2 separate regions of the Homo sapiens genome follow, and region 2 is linked to region 1. A link means that fine-mapping ties the variant in region 1 to the expression of a gene that starts in the linked region. Tissue or cell type: whole blood. Region 1 holds a variant in brackets; the other region holds the start of a gene. All regions are shown on one strand. Distances are between the middles of the regions.

Evidence for each region. PIP is the estimated chance that this variant, and not a neighbour inherited with it, causes the effect.
Region 2: S100A8 starts here. The variant in region 1 is fine-mapped to the expression of S100A8 in whole blood (TOPMed, PIP above 0.99). The same link has a PIP of 0.9 or more in blood mononuclear cells and monocytes.

What each region holds. Positions count from the first base shown.
Region 1 is chr1:153,363,918-153,366,602 of GRCh38, forward strand. No RefSeq gene overlaps it. Among named protein-coding and RNA genes, the nearest start is that of S100A9, 7.4 kb to the left of the region's middle. The variant G/A (reference allele first, on the strand shown) is at 1,550.
Region 2 is chr1:153,389,696-153,392,380 of GRCh38, forward strand. It overlaps S100A8 (S100 calcium binding protein A8), which reads right to left and starts at 1,378. Exons shown (of 3, transcript NM_002964.5): 1 at 1,346-1,378; 2 at 700-862; 3 at 337-548. The coding sequence starts at 840. The coding sequence ends at 408. RefSeq lists a silencer at 385-585.

The sequences.
Region 1 (2,685 bases):
TAACAAGGATTCTTCCATTTACCTTGTCTCTAGTAACTCAGTCTGCATGTAGGCAATTGTTTCAGACCCTGGGGGAAGGTCTGACAACAAGCCACTTGCACCCTGCGGAATTTTCTTTAAACGTAGTTGAACAGAACTCATCAAGGTGACTTAACCTCTTCATTCCCATTAGCCTCTTTCATTTCAAAAAAAAAAAAAAAAAAAAAAACCTCATTCTGCTGAGTAGAGCAGAGTGGGCTTCTTTTCTCAGATAGAGAGAGCAAGCATGTCCATGTCCATGTCAAGGTTAAGATTCCCACTCCAAGTGGAAATCAGTAGCTATCTCTGTGATTAATGAGTCCTTTGGGGAAACATGACCTTTGGGGACTTTCCCAGCACCATGGTGACTAAAGAATCAGAGACAACCTGTCTTCAGATGACTATCCAACAATTCCTGCAACAATGAGTTGCCCTCCAGGCTGGTGTTAGCAGTGGAACCTGAACTGCTAGATGCCTTCCTGGGAGGAATGAGGAAGGATCAGAAGTAGTCTAAGCTGCTAAACTCTTCCCAGACACTTCACAGTGCTCTGAATGTGGTCTGGGGCCTGGGTGGTGGTGGGATGGCTCCAGAACTTGGGGGAGAAATGAATTCACTTGTCCACTCACTTGTATGTCCCTTCATTCACTCAACAGACATTAACTGCAGACTTACTATGTGTCAGGCACAGTATAATGCTGAGGGGCCTTCATGATAAATAAAGCTTGTCCATGTTGTCAAAGAGTTCTCGGGCCTGCAGGGAGACAAGACAGCTCCTCAAATTAATCTGATGTGGAAAATGAGAGGCCAGGGAGGTCCAGCTAAAAGATTTCGGTGGGATGTAGCTCGGTGGGACTTTGAGGTGGGAATGATGCCCTTCACTGGGGCCATCTCCATGGAGGGGTAAGTATCAGTGTGACATCAAGGCTGGTACCTGGAGACATCCCGGGATAAACATGAAGGTGCTTCAGGAGACCATGTATGCAAAGGCCTGGAAATGGGCAGGCGTGGGGTTTGAGGGCGAATGAGGAGCACTGGGGGCGTGGCAGGGAGAGGTAAGAGAGACAGATGAGAACAGGATAGGTACCAGGCCAAGGAACTCACACTCCATTCAGCAGAACAGGGGCAGAGCCCCGAAGGCTTCAGGGAGGGCAATGATATAATCACATTTGCATTTCATAGAAGTTTCTCTATCTGTGTTTTATGGGATGGGTTTGGGGTGGGAATGAGACCCCAGGCACATGGCCTGTGGGGAGTCTGTTGCAAGAGCCCAGGTGAGCACTTAAGAGTCCAAGCGGTGCTTCTCAGAAAAAGTAAAGCTAGAGCCTCAAACTACCCCAAGCTTCACCTCAATTAGGAGAGGTGTGACTGCAACATGATAAATAAGATCATTTCATGCTGTTTGCCAAGACCTTTCCAGGAAGGAAGATCTCAGCTTTCACCAGCCCGGTGAGCCAACCTTACACAACCCTGATGCAGCCCTGCCCTGAAGTAAGCTCCATAATCCAACCCCAATGCACTGCCCCCTCTTCC[G/A]GCAGTTGCTTAAAACATATATTTTAGAAAGCCCCGTGTCATGGATTTTGACACTCCAATTACCAAAGTGACAGCAGGACTGAAACAACTGGTTTCTCAAGTCCTATTGCCCCTTGGGGCTCTGACCTGAAACAGTTTCTCTATCCTAAGACGACAATCAGTCCCTGGATGATTAGATCACCCCTGTCTTCAGAGATCCACTCCCAGACACAGGAGACAGGGAAAGGGAGCCCCTGAGCGACAGCCAGCTGGCCTCCATCCTGAGTGTCCCACGGAATGCAGAGTCCCAACTAAACACAGAGCACCGCTATTGGTGCTGGCTCAAAACAACTACATCTAGGCTTTCCTTTTCTGCATGAGTTCTCCCACTCTTGCCCACGTACCCAAAATTGCTGCATGCAGACTGTACAGTGAGGAAGGGGTTTGTTGCCAAGACCCGAGGTGAAGAGGAAGAGGAGGGTGGCCACCAGCAGGGGCGGCAGGGGCAGCAGGATTCCAGCATGCAGCCCGCACCTTCAGCATCCCCCGCCTTGACTTGGAGTCTGATCCTCCCTCCTCTCCCCTGCCTCTCCCCCAACCTTTTCCCTCTTGATTTGCCCCCTCTCTTTCTCTCTTTACCTTTTCTACATCCTCTCCCTGAGCTTTTTCTCACTTACTGCCTTCTGCCCTCCTGTCCTCTGTGGTAAAATGCAGTTCTATGTGGCTGAGTGCTTTCAGGGAAGCAACTAGGGGTCATATCTAACCTTTGTGAAGTAACTACGGGTCATATCTAACCAGAAATGGCTCCCTCAAAACACAAGATGTCCCAGTTTCGAGTCTACTCCTCATAATGAAAGGAGACAATCACAAGGGAAAATTGTTGAAGGTCTTGGGGAATCAAGTCTGGAAAAGGTAAGCAAGGGAGCCATGACAGCTGCCTTCAAATATCACCAGGGTCCAGGGAGAGGAGCCCACCCCCGGGGGCAAGGCCTCCAAACCCGCTGTGGTGTGGCTCATTTGCTGCCAGGCCCTCCCACTCTCCCAGCACTGCCTCAAGCATCGCCCTCGCATTCTACTCCAGGTGTTCATTCCCTCTGGTAGGAAACAGCTCCATGCAAAGAAGCCAACATTCATCAGCTATTCAGTCTGCAAATACT
Region 2 (2,685 bases), 26 kb after region 1:
GACATTTAGCTGGAAGCTAAAATTTAGCTTAGAGAACAGTATCAGTTGTTCTTATACTACCACCCTGTTCCCAAATCCCCGACCCATTTCAGAACCACTAGTAAAATCATCAGCTATAGTGTCATGGACTTTTTGGAATCCTTAAGCCTCAAATCCAATGGCTCAAGATGGAGGGGCTGGAAGGGAATGTGGGGCAGAGGCCAGGTGAGGGGTAAAGCAGGAAAGGCTTGTGAGAGGTAGGGTGGGATAACATAGATTTCTTTTTCTTCCTTTGGGTTTTCCAACCCTCCCTCCACACCGAGGAACCTCATTCCACAAAAGCATAAGAGAGAGGCATGAGGTATTGATGACTTTATTATTCTGCAGGTACATGTCCAGGGGCCCAGCCTCTGGGCCCAGTAACTCAGCTACTCTTTGTGGCTTTCTTCATGGCTTTTTTTGTGGGCTGCCACGCCCATCTTTATCACCAGAATGAGGAACTCCTGGAAGTTAACTGCACCATCAGTGTTGATATCCAACTCTTTGAACCAGACGTCTGCACCCTTTTTCTGTCAAGATTGAGGAGGAAGAAGCCAGAGTTTAAAGATCTCAGAGAGAGCCGAGGCATAGCCATCTATGAAGGGTGGCAGGGAGGACCGCTGGCCCAGGGCAGCCCCAGGACCAGGCAGAGAGCCCCCGCCACACCCAGCCCCTCCTCACCCTGATATACTGAGGACACTCGGTCTCTAGCAATTTCTTCAGGTCATCCCTGTAGACGGCATGGAAATTCCCCTTTATCAGGGAGTACTTGTGGTAGACGTCGATGATAGAGTTCAAGGCTTTCTCCAGCTCGGTCAACATGATGCCCACGGACTTGCCCCACCTGAAAAACAGAACCTTCTGGGGAATCCCATGGCAGGGAATTTGCATCTGGCCAGGGCAGTACGCAGAGGATTCATGCCCCAAGCGATGGCCTTGTCCTGGCCTGCACTCTCCAAATAACCAAACCAGCAGATGGCTATGGCTCTGGTGGGAAGGGTGGGATGATAGGGATACACGTGTGGGAAGGGGAAGGGTCCATTCACACAGAGACATGTGCACACACACGGGGCCCGTAGACTTTCCTTACCACCCCACCCTCTGCTCAAGAAAAGTCCAGCCTAGGAGACAATGTGCCCTTACCCACTGGAAGGTGCTGGAGGATACTCTCCTTCCTTATCCCTGCCTCACTCCCCACCTCCAGGAGTATCTTTGCTCCAGACCTCCCTGAGCTTTCTCTCTCCTCTCTCAGGAAGGCTGCTCCACTTCCCTGACCCTCCCCAAGAGAAGCCCAAAGTGCGGGGCCAACCCAGACAGTCCCACTTACCAGGTCTTCTGAAAGACAGCTGACAAGAGACATGCAGGGCTGAGAGGCAGCTCCTTTTTATAGCGGTTAGGCTTGGCCAGCTGCCCACAGCTTCAGGCCATCAGAGACAGCTTCTCCCTGCCAGAGTTGCTACAGTCTCTGGTTTCTCAACCAGGTGAATGTGGCAATCACTGTGCAGAATGAAAATTTTGGGTGGGGAGGTAGGAGAAGCGGAAAGAGGAAGGCATTTGCTGGGCAATAGTGCCCAGAAGGAAAAAGCAGGTAGGGGGGCTCTTTTTCTGGGCTGCTGGCATCCACTTGCTTGATCCAGCCAGATTCCCACTCCCATGCCCTCTCCACTATTGCGATTGCTAATCCCCTGCATTGGTGGTCAGGCCATACATCCCTGAAACTGAATTGAAGTTGAATGCATCATTTTGAGTGCATGCACTCAGTGAGAACATTCCTCCATGGCTTCTGTCAGAGTTTCAAAGGGTCCAAAGACCGCAAAAGGGTTGAGAACACGTGTCCTGGCTGATGGCTTTTAGTCATGAGAACTATTGTTCTCATTACTAAAAACTAAAACTATCGTTGTTGTTCTTTTGGGTGGGTGCTTTGTGGGGAAATGTGTTGTTGCCAAGGGCTATATCCATTCCTACCCTGCTGCCCACACTCCTCCACAGCTTTCCTGTTCTGTGAAGCTGGGGATGGACCATGCCCTGGGAGATGGAGGCTGCTTGGGGTCCCTCGGCACTTCACAAGGGCCTGAGCCATTGCATAAACACAGCAGGGAGCCTTTCACCCTCTCTTGGTTAATTATTGTGTCTGGGACCCCAGGATCACTGGCTGAAGAGAGGAAGCTAACTCTGAGGTAGTGGAGGGGAAGAGTTCTTTGGAGAAGCCAGACGCGCTTCATGCCTAAGAGGAGAAGAGGAGGTGGCCAATTCCCCAGGATTTCAGGAGGAACAAATCCTCTCCCCACCACTAACAAAATGCTACTCAGATTAACTGGCTTCCAACCTTGAAGACTGTGGTGTGTTTCTGTTGTTACAAAGAAAATATTTGTAAAACAAATATCTGATAAGGGATTAATATCCAGAATATAAAAGAATCCCTACAACTCAACAACAAAAAACAAACAAACCAATCAAAAATTGGGGAAAAGACTCAAATAGACACTTCTCCGAAGAAGATATACAAATGGTCAATAAGCATATGAAAATTACTAATCTTTAGGAAAACATGAAGCAAAACGACAATGAGATACCACCTGACACCTACAAGGATGACTACTACTTCTTTTAAAACCCAGAAAACAAGTGTTGGTGAGGGCATAGAGAATTGGAAGCCTAATGCACTGT